Linked DNA regions of Homo sapiens. The protein of the gene in region 5 purifies or fractionates together with the protein of the main gene of each other region. This does not show direct contact. Each region holds a gene or a part of one and is shown on either strand. Other genes may lie near its edges. The genes, in order: HP1BP3, ZNF326, CALML5, RPF2, OASL, DDX27 and ZC3HAV1.

Evidence for each region.
Region 1: the proteins of OASL (region 5) and HP1BP3 purify together in Homo sapiens (affinity purification with mass spectrometry; one large-scale study listed by BioGRID and IntAct). This does not show direct contact.
Region 2: the proteins of OASL (region 5) and ZNF326 purify together in Homo sapiens (affinity purification with mass spectrometry; one large-scale study listed by BioGRID and IntAct). This does not show direct contact.
Region 3: the proteins of OASL (region 5) and CALML5 purify together in Homo sapiens (affinity purification with mass spectrometry; one large-scale study listed by BioGRID and IntAct). This does not show direct contact.
Region 4: the proteins of OASL (region 5) and RPF2 purify together in Homo sapiens (affinity purification with mass spectrometry; 2 studies listed by BioGRID and IntAct, with this or other methods). This does not show direct contact.
Region 6: the proteins of OASL (region 5) and DDX27 purify together in Homo sapiens (affinity purification with mass spectrometry; 2 studies listed by BioGRID and IntAct, with this or other methods). This does not show direct contact.
Region 7: the proteins of OASL (region 5) and ZC3HAV1 purify together in Homo sapiens (affinity purification with mass spectrometry; 2 studies listed by BioGRID and IntAct, with this or other methods). This does not show direct contact.

Annotation. Positions count from the first base shown.
Region 1 is NC_000001.11:20,770,308-20,773,807, forward strand, and holds part of HP1BP3 (heterochromatin protein 1-binding protein 3), read right to left. Parts: intron 3,304-3,500; coding exon 3,144-3,303; intron 767-3,143; coding exon 623-766; intron 1-622. UniProt on the Homo sapiens protein: Component of heterochromatin that maintains heterochromatin integrity during G1/S progression and regulates the duration of G1 phase to critically influence cell proliferative capacity.
Region 2 is NC_000001.11:90,032,591-90,036,393, reverse strand, and holds the end of ZNF326 (DBIRD complex subunit ZNF326), read right to left. Parts: 3' UTR 861-3,803; downstream 1-860. UniProt on the Homo sapiens protein: Core component of the DBIRD complex, a multiprotein complex that acts at the interface between core mRNP particles and RNA polymerase II (RNAPII) and integrates transcript elongation with the regulation of alternative splicing: the DBIRD complex affects local transcript elongation rates and alternative splicing of a large set of exons embedded in (A + T)-rich DNA regions.
Region 3 is NC_000010.11:5,497,854-5,501,272, forward strand, and holds CALML5 (calmodulin-like protein 5), read right to left. Parts: upstream 1,718-3,419; 5' UTR 1,586-1,717; coding exon 1,145-1,585; 3' UTR 844-1,144; downstream 1-843. UniProt on the Homo sapiens protein: Binds calcium. May be involved in terminal differentiation of keratinocytes.
Region 4 is NC_000006.12:110,987,979-110,992,357, forward strand, and holds part of RPF2 (ribosome production factor 2 homolog), read left to right. Parts: intron 1-1,049; coding exon 1,050-1,087; intron 1,088-3,768; coding exon 3,769-3,808; intron 3,809-4,379. UniProt on the Homo sapiens protein: Involved in ribosomal large subunit assembly. May regulate the localization of the 5S RNP/5S ribonucleoprotein particle to the nucleolus.
Region 5 is NC_000012.12:121,018,335-121,022,849, forward strand, and holds the end of OASL (2'-5'-oligoadenylate synthase-like protein), read right to left. Parts: intron 2,725-4,515; coding exon 2,227-2,724; 3' UTR 777-2,226; downstream 1-776.
Region 6 is NC_000020.11:49,225,580-49,229,958, reverse strand, and holds part of DDX27 (probable ATP-dependent RNA helicase DDX27), read right to left. Parts: intron 3,530-4,379; coding exon 3,424-3,529; intron 1,245-3,423; coding exon 1,071-1,244; intron 1-1,070. UniProt on the Homo sapiens protein: Probable ATP-dependent RNA helicase. Component of the nucleolar ribosomal RNA (rRNA) processing machinery that regulates 3' end formation of ribosomal 47S rRNA.
Region 7 is NC_000007.14:139,078,157-139,082,535, reverse strand, and holds part of ZC3HAV1 (zinc finger CCCH-type antiviral protein 1), read left to right. Parts: intron 1-2,292; coding exon 2,293-3,066; coding exon of another isoform or gene 3,067-3,432; intron 3,433-3,882; coding exon 3,883-3,984; intron 3,985-4,379.

The DNA.
Region 1 (3,500 bases), on a different chromosome or scaffold from region 5:
GCAATTATTATTTCTGTTATTCCTTTTTGTTTTCAGACAGGGTCTCACTCTCACCGAGGCTGGAGTGGTGAGATCGTAACTCACAATAGCCTCAACCTCCCAGGCTCAAGCGGTCCTCCTGCCTCTGCCTTCCAAGTACCTGGGACTAGAGGCATGTGTCACCAAACCCTGCTGATTTTGTATTTTTTGTAGAGAAGGGGTCTTGCTATGTTGCCCAGGCTGGTCTCGAACTCCTGGGCTCAAGTGATCCTCCCAACTAAGCCTCCCAAGGTGCTGGGACTACAGGTGTAGGCCACCATCCCTAGCCTCATTTTTGCTGTTTCAGTAGTAGGATTCCTTACCTCTTTTTCATGTTCAGTGCTACATGATTTCAAGCACAAGCAGCCCCCCAAAAAATATCCAATTAAGAGCAAAGTAAGCTAGAAAAAAGTTACACTATCTTAATGGCACCAGCATTTTCGAAACCTAGCCTCAGATAATTCAACTAGGTTAAACTTAAGGAATTTCATCATCATGAAACTTATTTTTAACAAAAAAGGCACAAAAAGCCTAAATGTTACTAACTGTAGACTTAAAGCTAATACACAATGAAATGATCTTACTACTAACAATTGTGTAATACCTGTTTGATGACTCCTCTATTTAATTCTCTTTTCAGTGCTTGTTTAAGGAGATAACCCCTTCTCTCCAGCTCCAGAGAAGGATACTTATGGATGATGTATTTTCGAATAGCAACCACTGATGCACCACTCTTCTGGAAGCATGCCTAGAAAAGATTTATTAAACTAGTTGTTTTTTTTTATTAGATAGAGCCTGACATATATTTTCAAAATAAATTATTTTGGAAGTGAATTTGATGATAGATGACAAAAACGGTAGGGAAGAATGAACTTCAGAAGACTTCAGTTCATAATGACTACAGAGAAGTAACAGAATTACTAAATATTTCTACTACAATTTTAAATTGTTCAAAACAGCCTAAGAGACCATACTGAACACGAACAACATTCTATGTATAATGAAGAACCTCTTTCCATTTTAATTCCATTCTGTATTTAGAAGATGAATCTTTGGCATCAAAATGAGAAAAGCAGAACAAACCTATCACTTACAGGATCACAGATCTGTCCCATTTTAAGGCACGAGCTTAAGGAATGAGCATGCCAGGACATTTCCCTGAAGGCTCTGTATGAATGTCAGCAGAAAGAAGAATCAAAGATAATCTGAATAAGTGGCATAAAAATGGGTTTACAGATGGCAAAGTGCTGAAGGAGAGTTTTGGGTAATAGTGAAGGTGTTCTATTTGAATTTAATGTGCCCTCTTCCATTTCCATCCTATTTTACTTATACTCCATTTGACTAATGCACCTGGAAGAATTAAGTAGCTCATTATGTCACAAAGGCAGCAAATACTTAATTTTTTTCAAATGCTTAAAATTTTGTTTTCCAACTGGTCACTGACTTGAAATCAAATACTTTAAATTTTGAAACACACAAAAGTAGCATCTGTCATTTATCTAATGAGCTAGTCCATCAATTTTGTACTGCCACAGTGTCTATTAAATCAATGTAGCACTTATTCATTCTCATTGGATAAGAACTTCGTTGAATGTTTTTATACATTTTGACAACAAAGAAAAATAACTCACAGGTAGATGGTCCAGAAAAGATTGCACAACACGAAACAAGTTGTATTAATATGGGTCATGTAATTCAAGTCTATGTCTCTGAACTATTAATGACCTACTGAGGTTTACTCCTGATCTTAAAAGAAAACACAGAGCAAAGAAAATCAAGCAGAAAAGAACACTAATGCTGAAACAAATAATCTTTTGCTCCACCAATCCGACAGTGAGATGGTAGTAGACATCATGATTCCTGTTCAATACAGAAAATGGTATCCATGGTCTGAAACAATAATTTGTCATATTGCATGGAATACACATTATCTATATAAAATCAATCATCTCCATAAATATGCACAATTATATTCAAACCATTCTTTAAGCCAAATTGATATTGTTTTAATTTTTTATTTCACTATTTTAAAGTTTCAGCCCTTTTTCCATCCTCACTATGATGCTGCTCCTTCAAACCCAGGCTGAGTGGTCATCAAGTGAAATCCTTGAAGAAAGGCTATACAAAGAACAGAGATTTCACTACAGTGAGGTAATCTAGACCAATAAAGTTTTCTTAATGAGGTGAGAGCATAAGAAGTCTTGAAGGAGTAAAGGGAGAAGTCTGAAGGCAAACCCTTTTTCCAGTTTATGTGTTAGTGCTATCTTCTCATATTCTGAGAATGACAACCAGGCTGCTCCTTTTCGTACACATCCCCCCTTTTCTGGTTAAAATCATCTGTATCCCTGTCTCCCCAGTCCTGCCTCAGATCCTAACAACAGGGTCCCTGAAAGATGGGTCTGTTCTAACTCCTCTTATCATCTGATCATATGAACTAAACAAGGCAAAATTAAATGAAAAGACTTATACAATAAAGGCAATGTCAAATTAGAAGATAACCTTTAAAAATTAAAATAGGAAAACTACATCTAATGAAAGTCAATGAAATCATAAATCTATGTAAGGAGGATAATTTTTGTAAGCATTTTGGAATGTCTAGGTAATAAAGCAGTGTTTATTAACAGGGTTCAGGTGTGAAAGATAACCACTACCAAGATCACTTAGCTTTAGAAATGAACCTAGAGATATTTTTTAAACAAAAATTCTCAATATTTTTCAGTTACTGAGTCACAATTAGATTTATAAGGGCAAGGACTTTGCTAGCCTTAGTTAATTCACCACTAGCAGGGGCGCCCAACAGAGGAAGGTAGTCCTTAAATGTTTGTTCAATGAATTAACATTTTCAGCCTTCAAATAAAAACTGTACTTAATCGATAAACTGCATTTAAAAATTCTAAAGTTAAAATATTTGCTATATTAAATATAATTTTTTTAAAAAAATTAACAGTGTTCACCAAATGTGATTATATTAGAAAAACATGAACTTATAATGACTTTCCTCTCTTTAAAACTCCTTTAGGAAGCAGAACAAGATTTATGATGTCTAGACAGATATATGCCATTTTCAAATAAGAAAAAAATGAACATAATAAATCTAAGATGAATTGCTTGAAATAAAAACTTGCCTTAATGGCCTCAGTTAAGATTGCATCCATCTTGGGACGTGGGGAAGAAGCCATCGGTGTTTGTTTCTGGGCCCTGGCTAGCTGGCTGGCAGAAAGGGTAGCCCAGGAAGGAATTGTTTTTTTCACTTTCTTCTCCTTTTCTTTAGACTGATCTTTCTCACTTTAAAACAAAGAATTGTTATTATAGAAGATAAGCTCTCTAGAAAGACGTATAAAGTCAGAAGGAGGAAAAGACCAGGGAGGGATAAAAATTAATGCTTTAATTTATTTACAGGCTAAGATGACATGTACCATAAGCAAAATTTTACAAAATAAATCTTCTTTAAAAACTGGGTACTATAAATGAATTAAAAAGGT
Region 2 (3,803 bases), on a different chromosome or scaffold from region 5:
TCTTGGTTATTTACTTTGCATATGAGTTTCTGAATAAACTTAAGTGGTATATACTTCTAGTAATACACTAATATATGCTAACATCCATTCTCCCCTTTTTCTCTAATAGAAACCCTGCTTTTTTGCCTAGGAACATGGCCATATAGAATAAACACAATTCCCATCCTGGAAGCTAGTTGTATTCATGTGGCTGCTTTAAGCAATGAGATTCATGTAGAAAAGTAGGTACAATTTCTGGGAACAGTCCTTTTCTCCCTCTCCATTGGCTGGAATATACACAGGATGACTGAACATAAGGTTTGTTTGTTTGCTTGTTTGTTTGCTTTGAGATGGTGTCTCCCTCTATCGCCCAGTCTGGAGTGCAGTGGCATGATCTCGGCTCACTGCAAGCTCTGCCTCCCGGGTTCACACCATTCTACCTCAGCCTCCCGAGTAGCTGGGACTACAGGCGCCCGCCACCACGCCCAGCTAATTTTTTGTATTTTTAGTAGAGACGGGGTTTCACCGTGTTAGCCAGAATGGTCTCGATGTCCTGATCTCATGATCTGCCCGCCTTGGCCTCCCAAAGTGCTGGGATTACAGGCATGAGCCACCACGCCCGGCCAAAGATAAGGTTTTAAAGACAGCAAAGTAACAAGATAGAGGGAGCCTCAGTCTCTGACACCTTGAAGGGTGACACCAGCCCTGCCTTGTCTATCTGAACTTATATATATGAGAAAGACACTTCAATATTCCTGAAGCTGGTATTTTTAACTTTCTCTCGCCACCACTACTAACTCTAAGTAACAATTGGAATGGTAATTTATGAATTATCTGAAGATAACTGGCATACAGACAATATTTTTCAGACAGGAACACAGTGTTTATTCAGGCATTTTATTTCCTCCATTAAAATGTATCATTTTCCTCATAAGGATTTTGCATTTTTCCCATTGTTTATTCTTAGACAGTATACAGTTCCAAGTTTTGCTGCAAATGGGATTTTCAAATTACATTTCCAATTGGCCAATGCTATATTCTATATACAGATTTTCTATATAGTACAGATTTTCATGGTGAACTATTAAACAAAACTACCTTTTGTCATTTCTAATAGTTTTTCAACTGTTTCTCTTGGATGTTTGTCTCTACAATCACACTGCTCAAAATAAGGACTATGTTTTCTCTTCCTAATACTTCTATTTCTTAGGGTTAAATGATTGTTGCATAGGCAACAGTCATTATTGTCTTAATCCTGACTTGAATGCAGATGTTTGATGAAGCTTTCTGGAAGACCTTCCTAGTCCTTAGCCAAGTTACAAAGGCTTTATTCTATTCTCAGCCTGAAAAATTTAAATCTGGAATGTGTTCAATCTTAGGAAATGTTTTTCGAGCATCTATCAAGCTTATGGTATTTTTTTTTAAGTTAAAGTAATAAATTTCCTAAAGGATTGAGTTACATAATCGTCATGTTGCAGTTTTCAGATAAACCCTACTCTACCATGACACATTATTTTGGGATATTTAATTGGTCATGTTTTTTCAACATGACCAGTTTCAACAAATTACATTTGTTCGTAAGTGAGACTGGTCTATAGCTATCTTTGATGAACAATTTTCTGGAATAAGGATTATGCTAGCCTCAGAGACCAAATTGAGATGTTTCAACATTTTGTATAATCTAGAACTGCTTAAATAAAATAAAGATTCTCTTTCATAAGTTTTTATTTCCTTTTAAATGCAAGCATTACAAGGACAGTGTTTTCTTTTGTCTGATTTTTAAAAATTGATTTATTGCTATCCACTTGCTAATTTTTTGTTTCATTGCATTGTGATGACAGGATGGACCCTGAATTCCTACCTATCAACAAACAAAAAAATATTGTGGTTTTTGCTTCATGGTCATTTTTTCATGGCATTTGAAAACAAATATTCTATAGCTATTAAAATTTGTGCACTATATAATTCAAAATGTTTCCTCTATTTTGAACTCTTTATCTGACAATTTCTAAGCGCTGTGTTCAAATACGTAGCTATGATTATAAATTTGACAATTTCTTGTTTACCAAGTTTTTCTTTACATAATTTGATACCATGCCGTGCAGGTTGTGTTTTATGAGTTAATTTCTGAAATCCTTGCATGTTCTAAAATTGGTAGAATGTCCTTGCTGTGCCCTTACTCTTGACAGTTTCACTCAAGATAGAAGTCTAAATTCAAAACAGTTCTCCCTCAGAACTTCAAAAATAGCAGTATGTTGTAGCACTCCAACGAACAGATGACAAGTCTGAGACCAATGTGATTCTTTTCCCCTTATAGGTACACTGTTTCTCTTTAGACATTTTGAGATTTTTCTAAGCTTGGGATTACACATATTTTGTCAGTATTCATCCTGCATGACTTTTTCATTGTTTTTGCTCAGCACTGGAGACTTCTAATATGAATCTTTCATCAGAAGATTTTTTTTTTTTTCCTATTCTTCACTTCTTTTTTCACTTTCTGGAACTCCTCTATATATTTATACTGTAACATACATACATACATTCAAAAATATTTATTGCATAGTATTTACCTGGCACTGTGATATATGCAGGGTATTCAATGGTGAATTCTCTATACATATGGCTCTTAATCTCATGAAGTTTAATTTTTAAACAGATGGTGTTCTGGGTTTTCTATGTCTTTAAGAGATACATCTATGTCTTTTACTGTAACTTCCATCTTTTTTATCTTTTCTTGTAAGCTCTGGAAGTATCTTCAGCTCAAAATTCTAGCTCAGTAATTTGATTCTCAGCCATGTTTATTCAACTAATCAGCCTAAAACAGAGTTTATTTTCACAACTGTTTATTTCCAAGATACTTCTTTATAGCAACTTGCATTTTTAAAATTAGTACAATAACCTCTAAAATATTTGAAGATTATGACATATAATATGATGAGGATTACATATGAAACTATTATAAGTAGTAGTAATTATTATTCCATATAATACTAATTATACTTGGTCATTTTTTCCCCCTGAATTGTTTCCCCAGGAATTCTTTCTGCTTGTTAAGTTTGCTGTGTATTTTTCATGTTGCTCTTTTCCTTAAATATTTGCTGTTTCTCATTTGTCTACTTGCAAATGAGAGCCTAGGAGTCAACAAACTTTTTATATAAAGGGTAGGCTTTAAGGCCCAAACACAGTATCTGTCATATATTGTTTTGGTGTTCTACAACCCTTTAAAAATGTAAAATCTACTAAGAAATAGGTAGTGGAAGGCCTGTAGATAGCAGTTTTCCAACCAATAAATTTCTCAGTATCATTATCTGGAGTTTATTTTCTGGGCTTGAGTGAAAAATTCCCTGAAGATTGCGATTACAGGAAACCTAGCATTTTAATTGTGTGAGGAAGGAGAAAGGAACAGTCAGAAGGAAAATTGGGAAATAGACAGCTGGCAGATTTTTCTTTGTGTGCTTGTTTTCTAAGTATGAGGAATAAAGCTCCTTGTGGTAATCACAATATACCTAGGGCATTGCCACACTTCGATGGCCCCTATTTGTATGCTCTGCATTATATGCTCTGCACATATACTCTGTGAGTCTCACCTTATTTGGCAAACATCAAATTGTGTTACAGCTTTAGCTTAGAGGAATTCTGTGGACCAGCAGCTCTGAGTCAGAGACCAGAATAACTATCTAGTCCTTCAAAAATCTGGCTTAGCACACTACAGACACCCCATCTCAGAGCTGTCTCTACAACTGGAGGTAATTCTTTAATTATCATCGGCATGTGGCTGTCAGTTCCTTGGCTCTCTTGGTTTCACCAAGATCTAATTCCTTGTT
Region 3 (3,419 bases), on a different chromosome or scaffold from region 5:
ATAAACACATATACAGACACAGACACACACAACACACAGACACACAGACACACAGATAGGCACACAGACACACACAAACACATACACAGACACACACAGACACACACAGATAAACACACACAGACACATAGACACAGAGACACACACACACAGATAGGCACACAGACACACACAAACACATACACAGACACACACACAGACACAGACACACACAGATAAACACACACAGACACATAGACACAGAGACACACACACACAGATACACACACAAAGCCACACACAGACACAGACACACAGATAAGACACACACACAAATGGACACACACAGACACATAGACACAGAGACACACTCAGACACACACACAGATACACACATACACATGCAGATGCACACAAGGACACACAGACACACAAACATACAGAGACTTACACACAGATGCACACATACAGAGACACGCATACAGACACACAGACACACACACAGATGCACACACAGACGTACACGTATATTATTTGCAGCCGAAGAGAGGCAGGCTGCGTGCAGAGGCTGGCAGCTGGGCTCCGTCTGTCCATGCGAGGCGCCCGCTCCTGTTTGTGCGGGACACGTGCCCAGGTCCTCACCAGCAGCTCAGGCAGAACCTGGAGCCACAGACACCGCCCAGCACCATCCTCACACATCCTCTGCCCACCTGCCCTCTGCTCCGCGTCAGGGGAGGCAGGAGCTGCCCCTGGGGCCTGCTCCAGGCAGTTCTGCCACCGCAGGTGAGAGGGGTGGGCTGGAAGGAACCCTGGAAGCAGGTGGGGGCCCTCGGAGGCAGCCGCCCCACAAACACCAAGCACACATGGAACTCGGCAGTCCTTTATTTAGATCAATGCGGGGCTGAGGGGCCCTCATTCCACTGCAGGGCAAAGGGGGACCAGGCCCAAGGAGGCCTCCTTCTGCCCAAGGTCTGGAGGCAGAGAGGGGCTCGCAGGCGGCCCGAGGGCGCCGCATCCAGGCCCCGGAGCGCAAAGCCTTCCTCCCAGGGGGAGGCAGTTTCCCATCCACCGACCAGGTTTCCCCGGAGAGTCCCAGCACAAAAGCAGCAGCGGGCGGTGGCCCTGAAGGCTCAGAGCGCAGCCAGGGGGACACAGGCGGGGAGCCTCACTCCTGGGCGAGCATCCTCGCGAACTCCTCGTAGTTCACCCGCCCGTCCTGGTCCACGTCGGCCTCGCGGATCATGGCGTCCAGCTCCTCCTGCGGCAGCGGCTGCCCCAGCCCCGCCATGGCCCGCCTGAGCTCGTCCACGGTGATGTGGCCGTCGCCATCCTGGTCGAAGGCGCGGAAGGCGACCTGCAGGTCCTCCAGGCCGGCCCTGGCCTTCTTCGCCGCCGTCAGGAACTCCTGGAAGCTGATTTCGCCGTCGCCGTCGCTGTCAACCTCGGAGATGAGTTTCCTTAGCTGGGCCTCCGAGAGGTTCTTGCCCGTGGCCTTCAGCGCCGCGCCCAGCTCCTGGGCATTGATGGTGCCGTTTCCATCCGTGTCAACCGCGGAGAAAGCCTTTTTGTACTGGGCCTCCTCCTCAGGAGTCAGCTCACCGGCCATGCCTGCGTCTCCTGCACCTCGCGGAGCCTCCGAGCTGCTGCCCACCGGCCCTCAACCTGCTGCTCTCAGAGCTCGTGGTCCAGAGTGCAGGCAGCCGCAGGGATCCGGGCAGCGTCTGTCCCAGACAGTTCTGCCTTGGCATGGGAACCCCCTCCTTTTCTGCAATCGGAACAAAGGGAGGAGGGAGGCTCCCCACCCTCCAAATGCCCTGGGGTGAGAGCCTCCTCCCAGGGAGGGCCAGATCAGCTGCAGACAGGAAATGCAGGAATGGGAGTTGGGAGAGCTGTCAGGTGCCAGGTGGGAACTGCCATGGGGTCGGGGTATCGGATGGCTAGCCTGCCAACCCCGCCTGGCCTTGATAGCAACCACCTCCCTCCAGGAACATTCTGCCCAAGGGATAGTTTCCCCTGCAGCTGATTCTCGGAGATCCTGACCAAGCCAAGGGGTTCAAGACAGCTTCTGCAACTTCACAAAGACTGAGACTGGAGGGGGAGGTGGCTTGAAGAGGGCTCCCTCAAGGGCACAGCAGGCCCCAGTGTTTGGTGTTTCCGTACCCCTCTCTCCAGTGCTACTGCCTAGCTCTTGCCCTGAGGCTGGGGCTGGTGGAAGGGAAGTGGGTGGTAGTGTTGATTCTGCCAGGGCACAACTGTGGGTATCATGAGATTCCCAGGCCAGGGTCTAGAGACAGAGGATGGGGCTCACTGCCTATAACTTCAAGGAAGCAAGGGACCAGGGCTGCCTTCAGAGCCATAGCTGGTGCTGAGATGGTGTTTATCAAGTGAACATGTGACGTGCAGTTTCAGAGGAGAGGGAAAGACTTTTTGTCTCCCCAGAATACTCCCTTCTAGCTCAGGGATTCCTACAATTCAATTCCATCGCCAAGTCCAAGGTTCCCTGTGCAGACACCCTGGGAGCTCAGTGGCAGGCGTTCCATTCACAGGGCGTCAAACAGTTACAGCTGGAGTTTTGCTGCAGCGAGACACGGGGGACCTCAGTGCCCAGCATACCCCAAAGGTGCAGGCAGAGGTGCAGGAGGATGCAGAACAGGTGGCTGCCATCAAACTTGGCCCTCCTTGTGGTTTTACTAAGCATCAGCCCTAAGCACAGAGACCCATCTGGGAGCCTACTGGGGTCCTCAATCTGATCTGTTCTCTGGAAGGAAACCCCCAGGGCCACTTGCCTTGACCAACTTTTAGAGCAACAGCTAAGCTTTCGGGGGACCATCCCCAAGTCCTTCCACTGATGTGATCTACAGTTGTGAGGGGACATTTGCCTTGGAGTCCCCAAAATGCCTTTCCCAAGCAAGTCCCCTCTGATCTCCATAGATTCCCATTCTTCTCCCCAGCCCCTGCCCGTACACAGGGAACAAACTCCTTTATTCCCCTGGGAAAGTTTATACATTCCACCTCCCTCCTGTTCAGCCCATCAAATAGACCAAGTGCCCTCTCCTTCCCTAAAGTGCAGCCAGACAAACACCTCCCAGCCCCTTGGTGCTGCACACATTCTCCAAGGGAAGCCGGAGGCTGGGGTGCCCAACCACGCACTCCATGACCCACAGCTCAGTCCCCCAGGACCACACAAGGGGCAAACCAGGCAGAGCAGTGAGAGGAGGGAAGATGCCCCAGCCAGCCCTAGTGTGGCAGCTGCTCCCTGAGCTGCATGTGAGGGGCCAGAGGGAGGTGCAAAGGGCTCGGAAGCACCACAGCAGAGGGAGAGGCTGAGGTCTGCAGAGAGGGAGCTCCGTGGACCAGGTACAAAAGGGAAGGTCATGGTCAGCAGGGAGAGGGAAGGAAGGGGGTCACCCCACCGGAGTTCAGGGGGACCCAGCATAGAC
Region 4 (4,379 bases), on a different chromosome or scaffold from region 5:
CCATCTCTATAAATTAAATTTAAAAAAATAATAAAATACAGCCTGGACAACATGGTGAAACCCCATCTCCACTCAAAATACAAAAATTAGCTGGGCGTGGTGCATGTGTCTGTACTTGGGAGGCTGAGATGGGAGGATCACCTGAGCCCTGGAGTTTCAGGCTGCAGTAAGCTTTAATCACGCCATTGCACTCCAGCCTGGGCAACAGAGTGAGACCCTGTCTCAAAAATAAATAAATAAAATAAAATGAATGATTATTTGTGGATAGGTAGAACTAGGAAAAAAATGAAGAACATTGAATAATAGGCATTTTTTAAAGAGCTGTGTTTAACCTCTGGCTAGTATTCTAATTGTCATCATTATTACTGTTTCTAAGTTTTCTGATCTCCACGCAACATTATTTCAATCTGTCAGCCTTTCGTGATAGAATTTATTTTTTCTGTTTTTGTCTACTACTTTTTTTTTTTTTTTTTCTGAGACAGGGTCTCACTCTATCACCAGAGCTGGAGTGCAGTGGTGCAATCACGGTTCACCACAGCCTCGAATTCCTGAGCTCGGGTGATCCTCCCGCCTTAGCCTCCCAAGTAGCTGGGACTGCAGGCATGCACCACTATGCCTGGCTAATTTTTGCAGTTTTTTGTAGAGACAGGGTTTTGCCATGTTGCCCAGGCTGGTCTCGAACTCCTGGGCTTGAGTGATCTGCCTTGTCCTCCCAAAGTGTTGGGATTACAGGCGTGAGCCACTGCACCTGGAATTGTTTCCCTAGAGAGAGACTGGACTAAGTCGAGTTTAAAGAAATGAAGGAAATTGTTTAAGTTGGATAGACTATTGACAGGGCATAGAAACTTTTAAATAGGAAAGTCTAGTCCAAGAATATTAAGCTTACATTTCAAGTTACTGTAAGTGATGAAAAGGGAGCCAGGCAGAAGCCCTCAGAATAAGATTGAGGCCCCAGAGCAATCTTGGAGAGTGACTGTTATGATGCTTTATTTTTATTTCTGCTTTTCAGAATGTGTTTTGTTTTGAAAGCTATAAATTTTGTTTTACAGTATGCACTGAAAAAACCATACGGTGTACTATATAAAAAGTAAGTCATGATTTCTTTTACTGTATTTTAAATGATTTTGTTTCATTATAAAAGTAACCACTTTATGGAAGATTTGGAAAACAAAAACTTTTTAAAAAGATATTAAAATTCCTTACAGTTATTAATATTTTAATTTCTTTCTTTTGGTCTGTTTTTTTCATTTGTATTGAATGTCCTTGCATAGTTGTAACCATAGCATATATATTTTATTTTGAAATACAGATTTACAGAAAAGTGCAAAAATAATGCAGAATTCCCATATACCCTTCACCTGGCTTCCCCTAATGTTACATCTTGCATAACCGTAATGCAATGATCAAAACTAATAAATTAACACCGATTCACTCATGTTAATCAAATGACAGACATATTTGATTAGCACCAGTTTTTCTTTTTTCCTTCTTTTGAGACGGAGTCCTGTTGTCGCCCGGCTGGAGTGCAGTGGCATGATCTCTGCTCACTACAACCTCTAACTCTGGGTTCAAGCAATTCTTCTGCCTTGGCCTCCCATGTAGCTAGGATTATAGGCACGTGCCACCACGCCTGGCTAATTTTTGTGTGGTTTTTTTTTTTTTTTTTGAGACGGAGTCTAGCTTTGTTGCCAGGCTGGAGTGCAGTGGCATGATCTCGCCTCGCTGCAACCTCTGACTCCCTGGTTCAAGTGATTCTCCTGCCTCAGCCTCCTGAGTTGGGATTACAGGCATGCACCTCCATGCCCAGCTCATTTTTGTATTTTTAATAGAGACAGGGTTTCACCATGTTGGCCAGGCTGGTCTTAAACTTCTGACTTTAGGTGATCTGCGCGCCTTGGCCTCCCGAAGTGATGGGATTACAGGCGTGAGCCACCCCGCCCGGCCCAGTTTCTTTTTTCTTTCTTTTCTTTTTTTTTTAAGACGGAGTTTCACTCTTGTTGCCCAGGCTGGAGTGCAGTGGCATGATCTAAGGTCACTGCAACACCTGCCTCCTGGGTTCAAGCAATTCTCTTGCCTCAACCTCCCGAGTAACTGGGATTACGGGCATGCGCCACCACGCCCGGCTAATTTTGTATTTTTAGTAGAGACGGGATTTCTCCATGTTGGTCAGGCTGGTCTCGAACTCCCGACCTCAGGTGACCTGCCCACCTCGGCCTCCCAAAGTGCTGGGATTACAGGCGTGAGCCACCGTGCCCGGCCCTAGTTTTCCTTTTAATACTCTTTTTCTCTTCAGGATCCCATGTTGCATTTAGTTTTCATGCCTCCTTAGTCTTCTCCAATTTGTGACAGTTCCTTAGTCTTTCATTGTCTTTGATGACCTTGACATTTTTGACAAGTACTTGTCAGTTATTTTGTAAATTATCCCTCAATTTGGGTTTAAATTTTCTCATGAATTGATTGAGGTTATGCATGTTTGTCAAGAACACTACAAAAATGTTGTGCTTTCCTCATATATTCTTCTGGATTATAATCCAGTGTTCTTAATTTTGTTGCTTAAATTGTTCTGTTTGGCAATTGGGAACCCCCCCCCCCCCCACCTTTTCTTTTGTTTGTTTTTTTAGTATGAGACGGAGTCTCACTCTTTCACCCAGCCTGGAGTGCAGTGGTGCGACCTCAGCTCACCACAACCTCTGGCTCCTGGGTTCAAGCGATTCTCCTGCCTCAGCCTCCTGAGTAGCTGGGATTACAGGTGCCCAGCTAATTTTTGTATTTTTAGTAGAGACAGGGTTTCACCATGTTGGCCAGGCTGGTCTCAGACTCCTGACCTCAGGTGATCCACCAGCTTCAGCCTCTCAAAGTGCTGGGATTACAGGCGTGAGCCACTGCTCCCAGCTGGGAACTCTTTTACGTTGGTTCCTATGACCTTTCAACATGCCTCCTGTTTTTGAGCACTTCCTTACTTTCTAACATCACAAAATTATCTGGGTTCATCTTGTCTTTTTCCTTACCACAGCCCTGGAATAAGCTACAGTCATCCCTCAGTATCTGTGGGCGATGGGTTCCAGAAACCTCCCCTTATTAAAATCTGGGTATGCTCGTCTCTTACATAAAATGGCCTAGTATTTGCATATAACCCACACACTTCCTCCTGTATCCTTTTTTTAAAAAATGCTTCCCATAAAAGTAAGTTGCATATACTTTAAATCATCTCTCGATTACTTATAATATCTAATATAATGTAAATGCTATGTAAATAGTTATAATGCTGTATTTTCTGGTTTATCCTGCTTTTTATTGTTCCTTTTTCTTTTTATTTCTTAACTTTTTTTTTAGAGACGGGGTCTCACTGTTACCCAGGCTGGAGTGCAGTGGCACGATCATATTTCACTGTTGTAAGCCACTGTGCTCGGCGCCCCCTGCTTTTTTTTTTTTTTTTAACACACTTTCTTTGTCTATTGAATACTGTCAATCCGTGGTTGGTCAAATCAATCCATGGATGCAGAAGGATGCAGAATCCATATGTACAGAGGACTACTTATTTTCCACGAGCCTATAAACTCCATGAAAGCAAGCATCTTGTTTAATGTAGTAGTATAGTATCACTAGCTCCTAGAATGGTAGCCTGGCATATAACAGGCACTGAATAAATATTTGAATGAATGAATATCCTTTCAATTGTTTTATCATCTGAATATAAAATTACCTTAATATATTAATTGTATATACTTATTTAGATTATTAAAATTGTCACTTTTTTGATATTCTTAGGAAAAATATTACAAGACCTTTTGAGGATCAGACATCACTGGTAAGTATAATAATCTTTATGATTTAAGAAAGCATATAAGTAGTAATTATTCAGACTAATTCATTTGTACTCCAAATTTGTGATTTTTTTAAACATTAGAAGTCATCCTGTGTGAGGGAATTTTGTGTAAAATGGAGAGGAAATACTTTAAAAAATATCTATAGAGCTTTCATTTCACTATGGCTGGGAAATGTGTTTTTCATTGCCTGCAAATATATTGATAAAATTTTTAAAACTTGGCCGGGCGCGGTGGCTCACGCCTGTAATCCTAGCACTTTGGGAGGCCAAGGCAGGTGGATCACCTGAGATTGGGAGTTCAAGACCAGCCTGACCAACATGGAGAAACCCCGTCTCTACTAAAAATACAAAAAAAATTAGCCGGGCGTGATGGCACATGCCTGTAATCCCAGCTACTAAGGCGGCTGAGGCAGGATAGTCACTTGACCCCGGGAGGCAGAGGTTTCAGTGAGCCGAGATCACGCCATTGCACTCCAGCCTGGGCAACAAGGGTGAAACTCCGGCTCAAAAAAAAAAATATTTAAAACTTGAGTTGCATTTAAAGGACATAATG
Region 5 (4,515 bases):
CCGGATGACGTCTCTCTCGGTCTTCAGGGGGTAGGTGTCTTCTGGCCCGCTCTCTTCCCGCTTCTGCTATCTTGCTGACACATGCTGCTGGCGCGAGTGGCCTTGCGCCTTGGGACCGGGCCCAAGGAGGGAGGGGAGGGAGGGGTCATTCATTCTCTTAAGCTTTCAGGCCCCACGGAGAATCTTTCAATTACATAATGGGTCCTGAGCCCTCATGAACTGGATCAATGCCTTCATAAAAGAGACCCCAGAGGCCAGGCATGGTGGCTCACAACTGTAATCCCAGCACTGTGGGAGGCCAAGACAGGTGGATCACAAGGTCAGGAGTTCGAGACTAGCCTGGCCAAGATGGTGAAACCCCGTCTCTACTAAAAATAAAAAAAAAATTAGCTGGGCACAGTGGTAGGTGCCTGTAGTCCCAGCTACTCGGGAGGCTGAGGCAGGAGAATCGCTTGAACCTCGGAGGCAGAGGTTGCAGGGAGCTGAGATCATGCCAATGCACTCTAGCCTGGGTGACAGAGCGAGACTCCATCTCAAAAAAAAAAAAAAAAAAAAAAAGAAGCGATCCTAGAGACACCTTTGCCTCTTCTACCATGTGAAGACTTAGTGAGAAGCTGCCATCTGTGAATCAGGAAGAGGTCCTCACCAGACACCAAATCTGCCAGTGTCTTGACTTGGACTTCCCAGCCTCCAGAGCTGTAAGAAATAAATGGTTATTGTTCATGAGCCATCCAGTGTATGGTATTTTGTTTTAGCAGCCCAGATGGACTAAGACATTGCATTTTTCATTCTTTTTTTTATTTTAAACAAGAATTTTCCCACCACCTACAATGTGGGCTGTGCTGGGCATTATGAAGGACACAAAGATGGGGACTGGAACAGCCTGTCTACCTCCTGGAAAGGAGGCACTTTTTCTGTCCCTGAAGGCAAACAGAGGTGGGAGATACACAGATTATGATTGCTAAATTGACCAGAGGCTGTTGATAACCAATTGCAGTGTGCATTTTCTATGCTATGGTAGGAGAGTAGCCCACCAGAAAACTAGGCAAAACAGGGGGGCAAAAGGAAACTTTTTATTGCTTGGAGTAAACCTGATCACATGACGTCCTTTGATAATAAAGATGCTATTACTTTCCTACAGTTTCCTGACTATTATGTACTGTTTGTGTATGGGTTTTAGGAGTTGAGGTGATTTTTTTTTACACTGCATCATCCTCAATCTCCCATTCTTTGTCTCTTTTTGCCTCAGTTTCCCCAGTCCTCATTTCTTAGAGTTGAGAAGCTCAAATGATCAAGCAATAACCATTAGGACAGCATTAGGCCCTGTGGAAATAAACAGCCCCCAAATGAGAACTAACAAAGGCGATTTATTCCCAACTTGCTATAGCAAAGGAACCAGCCACCCATCTCTCGCTTTTGACAGAGATTTAAAGACAGGCAGGAAAATGGGAAGGCTTCAGGGATGCCGTGATTGAGGCTGTTGGTATGGGGAAGCTGGAAGTGCACTCACCAGAAGTGGGGCTAACCATGTGATTGGTCTGGGGAGCTTATTTGGGTTTCTTGGGTTGGTCATAAATAGGAAGCAGGATGGGAGTAGGGTGGGGAGTTAGAGATGCTGCCAGTTATCGCCCAAGTCCTGATGGTTTGGGGTTGATTGCTGCAGAAGGCTGTGGGTCCGAATTCTGTTGCTGTGCGTCATGTGACCACACTATTTATTTGTATATTTAGTCCTCACACCCCTCCTCATCCTCCCCCTGGCAGGGCTGGGATAATCCTTTTTTTAAACGGATTTACTTATTTTTATGTTTTAGTTTTTAGACACAGGGTCTTGCTCTGTGGCCTGGGCAGGAGTGTAGCGGTGTGATCACAGCTCACTGCAGCTTCAGCCTCCTGGGCTCAAGTGATTCTTCTGCCTCAGCTTCTTGAGTGCCTGAGACTACAAATGTGCACAACCACACCCAGTGAATTATTTTTTTATTTTGTAGAGACGGGGTCTCCCTGTGATACCCAGGCTGGTCTTGAACTCCTCGGCTCAAGCGCTCCTCCCACCTCGGCCTCCCAAAGTTCTGGGATTACAGGTGTGAGCTACCACGTCTGGCCTGGGATAACTCATTGTAAAACTGGTGAAGACCTGGGACCTTCCCAGTAGACAATGGGACAGAGTGATTGACAGGATGAGTTCTGGAGTACATGGCAGAAATGTACAGAGAAGTCTCCCAGAGAAAACTAACTGGCTGGAAACAGAGCCTCTCCTTTCTTCTTCGAGAGGATGAGAGTGTCACTGTCTTGGATGCCATAGATCCCCAGACCCAACCAGTCCTGCAGGACTTGGCCTTGGAATTCCAGCTGCTGCTGCTTTTTAGGAAGCCCCTGCTGGTCTTCAATCTGCTGCTTCAGACCCAGGATGAAGCTGTTGGGGTTGATGGCATAGGCGTAGCTCCCACCATCAGGATTCTTCACGAAGACCTGGATCTCGGAGGGGATGGTCTCCAGCAGATAGATGTGAGTGTGGGAGAAGATCCCATATTTGGCTAAGGAGCACCTGCTGCTGAGAAGCTGCCTCTCACTGCCAGGAACCTGGAAGGACAGACGCTGCAGGCCAGAGTAGCCCCTGGTCCTCCGGATTTTCTCTTTAACCTTCCTTATGGGCTCATAAGGGTTCACGATGAGGTTGAAATCTGGGTAACCCCTCTGCTCCACTGTCAAGTGGATGTCTCGTGCCCTCTGGAAGGGAGAGGGAGAAGGAGAGGTGTTAAGTCCACACTTCTTTGTCTGATGTGCAAATGTTCCCTTCATCTGTCCTTATCTTTACAATAGTAGCAGCAGCAGCGGCAGCAGCAAATGTTTAGGGAGTGGTAAGCACTTTCCAGGCTGTATGCTGAGCACCTTCCATACCCTTAATGCATTTTATTCTCAGAGCATCTCTATTAGTTGGTTGGTTCTACTGTTACCCCCATGTTATTGATGAGGAAACTGAGCAGGGTTAGGTAATTTACTGAACACCAATCACATAGGTAGTAAGGAGCAGGGCAGATATGTGAAGTGAGGTTGGTCAGACTCCAGAGTCTGTGTTCTCACCACCTCCAGAGGCTACACTCCAGGGCCTGAGAGCCCCAGGTGGCTGGAGAGCACCTGGAAAATGCTGGCGAGGGTCAGGCCTCTAGCTGATTCTTTCCAGAAGAAATATAAGCCTTGGCTGGGTGCAGTGGCTCACGCCTGTATTCCCAGCACTTTGGGAGGCCAAGGCGGGCAGATCACTTGAGGTCAGGAGTTTGAGACCAGCCTGGCCAACATGGCAAAACCTATCTCTACCAAAAAATGCAAAAATTAGCCGGGTGTGGTGGCGTATGCCTGTAGTCCCAGCTACTCGGAAGGCTGAAGTGGGAGAATCTCTTGAACACAGGAGGTGGAGGTTGCAGTGAGCTGAGATCGCACCACTGCACTCCAGCCTGGGCAACAAAGGGAGACTCTGTCTCAAAAGGAAAACAAAAAAAGAAAAAGAAAAAGAAATATAAGCCTGGCATTGCCAAGTTTTCTGACTAGCCAAGATAAAAAATATTTGCACAATGTTGTGTGTGTTTGTTTTGTTTTTTGAGACAGGGCCTTGCCCTGTCACCTCAGGCTGCAGTGCAGTGGTGCAATCTTAACTCACTGCGCCTTGACCTCCCAAGCTGAAGCGATCCTCCCGCCTCAGTTTCCTGAGTAGCTGGGACCACAGGTGCGTGCCACCACATCTGGCTAAGTTTTGTTCTTTTTTTTTTTTTTTTTTTTCAGATGGAATCTCACTCTGTTGCCAGGCTAGAGTGCAGTGGCACGATCTTGGCTCACTGCAACCTCCGCCTCCCAGGTTCAAGCGATTCTCCTGCCTCAGCCTCCCTAGTAGCTGGGACTACAGGCACATGCCACCACACCCAGCTAATTTTTGTATTTTTAGTAGAGATGAGGTTTTACCATGTTGGCCAGGATGGTTTCGATCTCTTGACCTCGTGATCTGCCCACCTCGGCCTCCCAAAGTGCTGGGATTACAGATGTGAGCCACCGCACCTGGCCAAGTTTTGTATTTTTAGTAGAGACGGGGTTTCACCATGTTGCCTAGGCTGGTCTTGAACTGTTGGGCTCAAGGGATCCACCCGCCTCAGCCCCTCAAAGTGCTGTGATTACAGGCGTGCGCCACTGCCCCCAGCCTACAATGGCTTTTATATTCAGGAAAAATCCAGAGGCGTATATTTTCCAGCCCATGGGTGGGCCTCCTCATTTGGCCAGCGGGTCCCCCCGTTTATACTCTATGTACCTTACTGGAGCCTCTGATTCTGCTTCTGCCTTCTGCTCCAAGCAGTTCAGTCTCCTGTCCTGTACACATCTTGCTCATCCCAGCCTCCCATCCTTTACCCCTCATCATCCTTTGTCCTCTGTTCTGAGTGTCTATATCTCCCCCCGGCCTTTAGGGCTCATTTCAACTCCTAACTTTTTAAAGGAATCTTCTCTGGTGACTTCAGTTAACATTTATTCTGCTTC
Region 6 (4,379 bases), on a different chromosome or scaffold from region 5:
GAATGCATGGGCTGGGCGAGGTGGCTCATGCCTGTAATCAATCCCAGCACTTTGGGAGGCCAAGGCAGGTGGATCACCTCAGGTCAGGAATTCGAGACCAGCCTACCCAACATGGCGAAACCCCATCTCTATTAAAAATACATAAATTAGCTGTGCATGGTGGTGCACACCTATAATTCCAGCTACTTGGAAAGCAGTGGGAGAATCACTTGAACCCAGGAGGTGGAGGTTGCAGTGAGCCAAGATCATGCCATTGCATTCCCACCTGGGCAACAGAGTGAGACTTCCTCTCAAAAAAAAAAAAAAAAGAGAATGCCTGAAACATTCAAGGACTAAGAGAAGCAGCTGAGGAAAGTGATGAGGTGTCTGTTACAGGGAGACAAAGATCACTTCTGACTTCCAATAGCACAAGGAGGGCAAAATGCAGGCTAGATAACACTATCATATAACTTCATTGGAAAAACGCTGCCCAAAGTAATATTTGATTCATTATTCTCACAGAGCAGAAATTATACCCCAAATTTGTTCAGTACCACGAAAAAAATGTTCATAGTTTTCAGGTTTCATTTGTGAAGGTTGGTTAAGTCTCAATCAAATCCCACCCACCTAAAGCACTATGAAAACATGTCGGCTGGGTGCGGTGGCTCATGCCTGTAATTCCAGCACTTTGGGAGGCCAAGGCAGGCGGATCACGAGGTCAGGAGATCGAGACTATCCTGGCTAACACGGTGAAAACCTGTCTCTACTAAAAATACAAAAAATTAGCCAGGCGTGGTGGCGGTAGTCCCAGCTACTGGGGAGGCTGAGGCAGGAGAATGGCGTGAACCCGGGAGGCGGAGCTTGCAGTGAGCCAAGATTGCGCCACTGCACTCCAGCCTGGGCGACAGAGCGAGACTCCTCCGTCTCAAAAAAAAAAAAAAAAAAAAAAGTCTTCCAGTTTTTAAGTGGATTCAATCAACACAAAGGCCTCTCCTGGCACCTGTCACCAACACCAACAGATGGCGGGGCACATCCATCCTCCACCCCACCACAGTCTCTCAGGGGCTGGCAGCCCTTGGCCAGAAACTCACCCACAGCCAGGCAGGTGGTGATGTTGCAGAACTGGGCCAGCTGTCTGGTGACAGAGTGCACCTGGATGCCCAGCTCTCGGGTGGGCACTAGCACCAGCACGCGGGTGACTGGAGCCTGGCGGGGTTTATAAATCAGACGCTCCAAAACAGGCAGGGCAAAGGCGGCAGTTTTACCTGGAGGGAGGGACAGCAAGGAAGCAATGAGAAGAAGTTTAGCTCCCTCCAGGGTTAGGTTTTCACCAGAGCACAGAAAAACTACGTCTGGTTGGGGAAAATAAAGGAACTTATTTTTCATAGAATATTTTTTCTGCTTTCAAATCACATGGTCAGGCTCACATATGTAATCCCAGCACTTTGGGACGCCGAGGCAGGCGGATCACCTGAGGTCAGGAGTTCAAGACCAGCCTGGCCAACATAGTGAAGCCCCAATTCTACTAAAAATACAAAAAACTTAGCTGGGCATGGTGGCGGGAGCCTGTAATCCCAGCACTTTGTGAGGCCAAGGCAGGCGAATCACCTGAGGTCAGGAGTTCGAGACCAGCCTGGCCAATATGGTGAAATCCTGTCTCTACTAAATATATAAAAATTAGCCAGGCTTGGTGGTGGGCACCTGTAATCCCAGCTACTCAGGAGGCTGAGGAAGGAGATTCACTTGAAGGCAGAGGTTGCAGTGAGCTGAGAACGCACCACTGCACTCTAGCCTGGGTGACAACAGCAAAACTCTGTCTCAAAAAAAAAAAGAAAAAATACAGCCAGGCACAGTGGCTCATGCCTGTAATCCCAGCACTTTGGGAGGCTGAGGCAGGTGGATCATGAGGTCAGGGGTTCAAGACCAGCCTGGCCAAGATAGTAAAACCCTGTCTCTACTAAAAATACAAAAATTAGCCGGGCATGGTGGCGTGTATCTGTAATCCCAGCTACTCAGGAGGCTGAGGCAGGAGAATCGCTTGAACCCGGGAGGCGGAGGTTGCAGTGAGCCAAGATTGCGCCACTGCACTCCAGCCTGGGCAACAGAGCGAGACTCTGTCTCAAAAAAAAAAAAAAAAAAAATTTCCTCCTCTGATATGGCAGGGCCAGGAGGCCATGGTCACAGAGATCAGGGATACCCCAAGAGGATTAAATGAAAATGACCTTCATCAGACCCTTTGAAACTTGTGGCCCACTACTAGACCGGACATCCTCTCATGCACTGTTTATCTTACAAAATTAATCCTTCAGTATGCCAGGCACGGTGGCTCACACCTGTAAATCCCAGCACTCTTGAGAGGCTGAGGCAGGTGTATCACTTGAGGTCAGGAATTCGAGACCAGCCTGGCCAACATGGTGAAACCCTCTCTCTACTAAAAATACAAAAATCAGCCGGGTGTGGTGGCGGGCACCTGTAAACCCAGCTACTGGGGAGGCTGAGGCAGGAGAATCACCTGAACACAGGAGGCAGAGGTTGCAGTGAGCCGAGATTGCGCCACCGCACTCCAGCCTGGGTGACAGAGTGAGACTCCATCTCAAAACAAAAAATTAATCCTTCAGTAAACTGAGTAAGCTCTGCAGTCTAGGAAACACTGTTGTATCAGTGCCAATTTCCTGGTTTTGATTTTGTCCTACAGTTATGTGGGATGTCACCATTGATGAAGGATTCGAGAGACCCTATGCACTATTTTTGCAACTTGCCACTGATCTACAAATACTTCAAAATAAAGTGGTTAAAAATTTAAAAGTCCTTTACTCTCGGCCGGGCGCGGTGGCTCACGCCTGTAATCCCAGCACTTTGGGAGGCCAAGGCGGGCGGATCACGAGGTCAGGAGATCAAGACCATCCCGGCTAAAACGGTGAAACCCCGTCTCTACTAAAAATACAAAAAATTAGCCGGGCGTAGTGGCGGGCGCCTGTAGTCCCAGCTACTTGGGAGGCTGAGGCAGGAGAATGGCGTGAACCCGGGAGGCGGAGCTTGCAGTGAGCCGAGATCCCGCCACTGCACTCCAGCCTGGGCGACAGAGCGAGACTCCGTCTCAAAAAAAAAAAAAAAAAAAAAAAGTCCTTTACTCTCTCAATTGCACCAGTATATCTTTTTTGTGTTACAAAAATTTTATGGCCAGGCACAGTGGCTCATGCCTGTAATCCCAGAACTTTGGGAGGCCAAGATGGGAAAATCGATCGCTTGAACCTGAACCTAGGAATTCAAGACCAGCCTGGACAACAAAGTGAGACCCCTATCTCTACAAAATAAAAAATAAAAATGAAATAGTTCAAAAAACCAAGAATATTTATTTAGCAAACCAGCCTTTGGTAAGTCAACCTAGAGCCCAGCCCTGGCCGTAACACCCTTCTGCCCACCCTGGGTCCCTATCCTTTTCACCTGTCCCAGTGGCTGCACAGGCACAGATGTCCTTCCCCAATAGACCCACAGGTATGCACGCCTTCTGGATCGGGGTGGGCTGCTTGAAGCCCATGGCTGTAATGGCCTGAGGAAAAAAGAACTGGGTCAGACAGGGTTGAGCGGGGGAAGTCTCAGCACAACACAAACAGGGCAGGTTTCCAGACAAGTGGGGACCACACCAATCCCCACCAATCATTCGTTCCACAAACATTCACTGAACGCCTACTATGTGTGAGGTGGTGCTCTAGACACTGAGGACACAGCAGTAAATAAAAGAAATAAAAACCCTGCCCTCAGGAATCTTACAGTCTGGTAGAAACAGACCAAAAAACAAACACATGTCATATGGAGAGATGCTGCGGAAAACAATGCAGCGGCCAGACGGGCAGCAGGGGGAGTGCTATTCACGGTAGGGCTGCCAGGGAAGGTCTCACTGAGCAAGGGATACTGAGTTGAACCCTGAAGGAAGCTAGAGAGCACCCCAAAAGATTTCTGGAAGAGTTTTCCAGGCAGAGGGAACAGAAAGTGCAAGGGCCCTGAGGAAGAGGAGGCCTAACCTATTTGAGGGCCAGCAAGGAGGCCAGTGTGGCCAGAGCAGAACGAGTGCCAGGAGGTGTCGTCAGAGAGGGCCAGAAGGGGCAGAGCCTTGTAGGTCAATATAAGGACTCAGGCTTCTAAGAAGAGTGAGACTGGGAAGTACTGAAGGACTCAGAGAAGAAGAGGAGGGACACGATGGAACTCATTGCTTAAGAGAGTTCTCGGCCGGGCGCGGTGGCTCACGCCTGTAGTCCCAGCACTTTGGGAGGCTGAGGCGGGCGGATCACGAGGTCAGGAGATCGAGACCATCCTGGCTAACACGGTGAAACCCCATCTCTACTAAAAATACAAAAAATTAGCAGGGCGTGGCAGCGTGTGCCTGTAGTCCCAGCTGCTGG
Region 7 (4,379 bases), on a different chromosome or scaffold from region 5:
CACTTTGAGACCCTGTTTTCAGTTCCTCGGGGGTATATAATCAGAAGTAGAATTGCTGGATCATATGGTAATTCTATGTTTAATTTTTGGAGGAACGATCATACCATTTTTTGTAGCAGCTGTGCCATTTTTCATTTCTGCCAGCAGTGCACATGGGTTCAAATTTCTCACATCCTCTATCATTTTGTGTTTTCTGATTTTTTTTTTTAATAATAGCCATCCTAAGGAGTATGAAGTGCTATTACTTTTTTTTTTCTTTCCTGTTTTGAGACAGAGTCTCACTCTGTCACCCAGGCTGGAGTTCAGTGGTGCGACCTCGGCTCACTGCAATGGCCGGCCGCCTCCTGGGTTCAAGTGATTCTTCTGCTTCAGTCTCCCAAGTAGCTGGGATTACAGGTGCCTGCCACCACTCCCAGCTAATTTTTGTATTTTTAGTAGAGACGGGTTTTCATCATGTTGGCCAGGCTGGTCTTGAACTCCTGACCTCAAGTGATCCACCCACCTTAGCCTCCCAAAGTGCTGGGATTACAGGCGTAAGCCACCATGCCCAGCCAAGTGCTGCTATTTCTGAAGCATTTTCATATTATATAATGGCATTCATTTTTAATGTCTTTATGAAGTGGATGTAGGAAAGATGAATTTTATGAAGCAGATAGAATACATGATTCTAGGATTCTGTGCAAATTAATGAACAATTAAACCTCCTTATATTTGGGAAATGGTTTATCATTTACAAGGGACTTTCATCCCAAATAAATATTTCATCATTGTTCCTCACAGTGAAACCACAAAGAAAGGTAGATATGTCATTTTTTAGCCTTACTTAAGAGGGTAAAGAAACTGAGGCTCAGAAATAGTAAGCAATGTTTATTGCAAGCAGCCTCAGCTCATTTTTAGAAGAATGAAGGATAATGTAATGAAGAAATAAAAGGTAACATTTTCAAGGCCTCACATCACTAGAAAGTAGCAGAGTGCATGTTCTGATCCCATATCTAATGCTTTTTCTCTCTCACTACAGTTCCCTCTGAACAGAGGAATGTCTGGAGGGATGGGTTTTGGTGGTAGCTTCTCAATGTAAACTTATTGTGAATGAGAAAGATCTGTATATATTTTCACTTCCAGTTAATCTCCTGAGTTAAGCCTTTTCTTGACAGGAGGAGGGTGTTTGCTTTTACTACATAACTACTGCCCCCTGGGTTTGGAAGAGAAAAAAAATGTCTCTTCTACCCCTTCCCCACACAAAAAAGCACAATTCACACACACACACGAGCACACATGCACACCTCACATTCACACACCACACGTGCACATGTGCCTCAAACACAGACATGCACATCTTCCACATGTACCCCCGGCACACAAACACACCCCACATAAACATCACGTGCATGCACGCCACACACACTCCACACGCGCTCACAAACACACCCTAACTCCTTCCTTCCTCCCTGCTTCCAGAAGGGTGTGACCTATCAAGTTTCTAGAGGAAGGCCAATTCCCTGCAGGCCACACTGCTTTGTCGATGTTGACTTCTGATATACTTTGGCCTTATGGAGTGAGATGAAGAAAACTGGAAAAATTTCCAGCTTAAACAAAGTCAGGCCTTTAGACTGTGGTTTCATTTTCTGTTGGTTTCTTTGAGCATTGTGAATCTGTCAATAGCCAGGTACACCCGTATCACGATATGGGCAAAATCGAATGCTTTCTGGAAAATCTTCTCTGATTTGCCCTAATCTATCTCTCCATTGACCCCAGTGATGAACGTTGACTCAGGACCAGGAGATAGTGGACAGCCCCACCTAAAAGTTTTGGGGTTTGGGGGCTACTTTGAGTCCCAGAAGAGAGCCGGGGACTGTCATCCTAGAGCTGATCCTCACTGTCATCCTAGGCCATGGAATGACGTGCTCTGCCGTGCAGGCAGAATGTCAAGATTCTTTCATCAGCTGACACAGTTGGTGAGCACCTGTAGTCTCAGCTACTCAGGAGGCTCAGGTGGGAGGATCGCTGGAGCCCAGGAGTTCGAGCTTGCAGTGAGCTGTGGTCGGGCCACTGCATTCCAGCCTGGGCAACAGAGCAACACTCCATCTCTTAAAACAAAAACAAAAACAAAAAAAACCGTCAGTGTCAAACCACCCATCTTCAAGATTTTTACACATCAGATTACGCCAAGTAATTTGATAGCACTTGGATAGCAAAGCTACAAAAGTGAAGAGGAGGAAGGGTGGTAGGAACTCAGTCACATTAACTCCAATGTTCATTATTTTGTTTCATTTTGGCTTTTTTTCCCCTTAGCTCCTTCTTCACATCGTAGAAACATGGCATATAGGGCTAGAAGCAAGAGTAGAGATCGGTTCTTTCAGGGCAGCCAAGAATTTCTTGCGTCTGCTTCAGCGTCTGCTGAGAGGTCCTGCACACCTAGTCCAGATCAGATCAGCCACAGGGCTTCCCTGGAGGACGCGCCTGTGGACGATCTCACCCGCAAGTTCACGTATCTGGGGAGTCAGGATCGCGCTCGGCCTCCCTCAGGCTCGTCCAAGGCTACTGATCTTGGAGGAACAAGTCAGGCCGGGACAAGCCAGAGGTTTTTAGAGAACGGCAGTCAAGAGGACCTCTTGCATGGAAATCCAGGCAGCACTTACCTTGCTTCCAATTCAACATCAGCCCCCAACTGGAAGAGCCTCACATCCTGGACGAATGACCAAGGCGCCAGGAGAAAGACTGTGTTTTCTCCCACGCTACCTGCCGCCCGCTCTTCTCTTGGCTCTCTGCAAACACCTGAAGCTGTGACCACCAGAAAGGGCACAGGCTTGCTTTCCTCAGACTACAGGATCATCAATGGCAAAAGTGGAACTCAGGACATCCAGCCTGGCCCTCTTTTTAATAATAATGCTGATGGAGTGGCCACAGATATAACTTCTACCAGATCCTTAAATTACAAAAGCACTAGCAGCGGTCACAGAGAAATATCATCACCTAGGATTCAGGATGCTGGACCTGCTTCCCGAGATGTCCAGGCCACTGGCAGAATCGCAGATGATGCTGACCCAAGAGTAGCACTTGTTAACGGTAAATACAAAGGGAAGACACTTTGGGCTAGTACATTTGTTCATGATATACCAAATGGCTCTAGTCAAGTAGTGGATAAAACTACTGATGTAGAAAAAACTGGTGCCACTGGTTTTGGCTTAACAATGGCAGTCAAGGCAGAAAAAGATATGTTACGTACTGGAAGTCAGAGTCTGAGGAACCTGGTCCCCACCACACCTGGGGAATCCACTGCCCCTGCACAAGTCAGCACTCTGCCTCAGTCACCTGCTGCCCTTTCCTCAAGCAACAGAGCTGCAGTCTGGGGGGCCCAAGGGCAGAACTGCACCCAGGTTCCTGTTTCCTCTGCCAGCGAGCTCACAAGGAAGACAACAGGCTCTGCTCAGTGTAAGTCACTGAAGGACAAAGGGGCCTCTGTGTCTTGAGTCTGCAGCAGAGTGGCTATGGCTGGTGGTTTTTCCTTGGATGTTCCCCAGTTCTTAAAGGGTAGAGAGTTAGAGGGTTTTGGTTATGGGGTGGTCTGGTGAGGAGATTGACTAGTGAAGACAGGGAAGGGCCAACCAGTAGAACCACAGGGAATAAACTGCCACATTTATTGACAATAGGAATATTTCAACTATGATTTAAGAAATAAACATAGCTTTCACAGGACTCTGAGGTCCACATTTTTGTTTTATGGAGGGGCTGTCTAGATGCTCATGGGCAAAACATAAATCATAGGAATTTTCTTGAACATGGCCCCCATTTCAGATATTCTTTCCCATTGTGAGACCAAGTGCTTTGATTTTTGGTTTAAACATTAAGATCAGCATACATGCATCCTTTTTTGTTTCATAGATTCTTTATCTGATGTCACAAGTACCACATCTTCTAGGGTGGATGATCATGACTCAGAGGAAATTTGTCTTGACCATCTGTGTAAGGGTTGTCCGCTTAATGGTGAGTAACCTAAGGACTTTTCTGTAAGCTTCCACCTTTTGGCCATTGTAAATAACACTGCTATGAACATGGGTGTGCAAATGCCTTCTGAAAACCCTGCTTTCAATTCTTTTGGATATATACCCAGAAGTGGAGTTGGGGGATCATATAGTACTTCTATGTTTAATTTTTTTTTTTGAGGAACTATTATTCATAGTGGCTATACCATTTTTCTTTCCCACCAGCAATGCACAAGCGTTCAAATTTCTCCACATCCTCACCAACACTTGTTCTTTTTGTGTGTGTTTGTTTGCCTTTTTTGTTTGTTTGTTTTGAGACGGAGTCTCACTCTGTCACCCAGGATGGAGTGCAGTGGTGTAATCTCAGCTCACTGCAACCTCTGCCCCCTGGGTTCA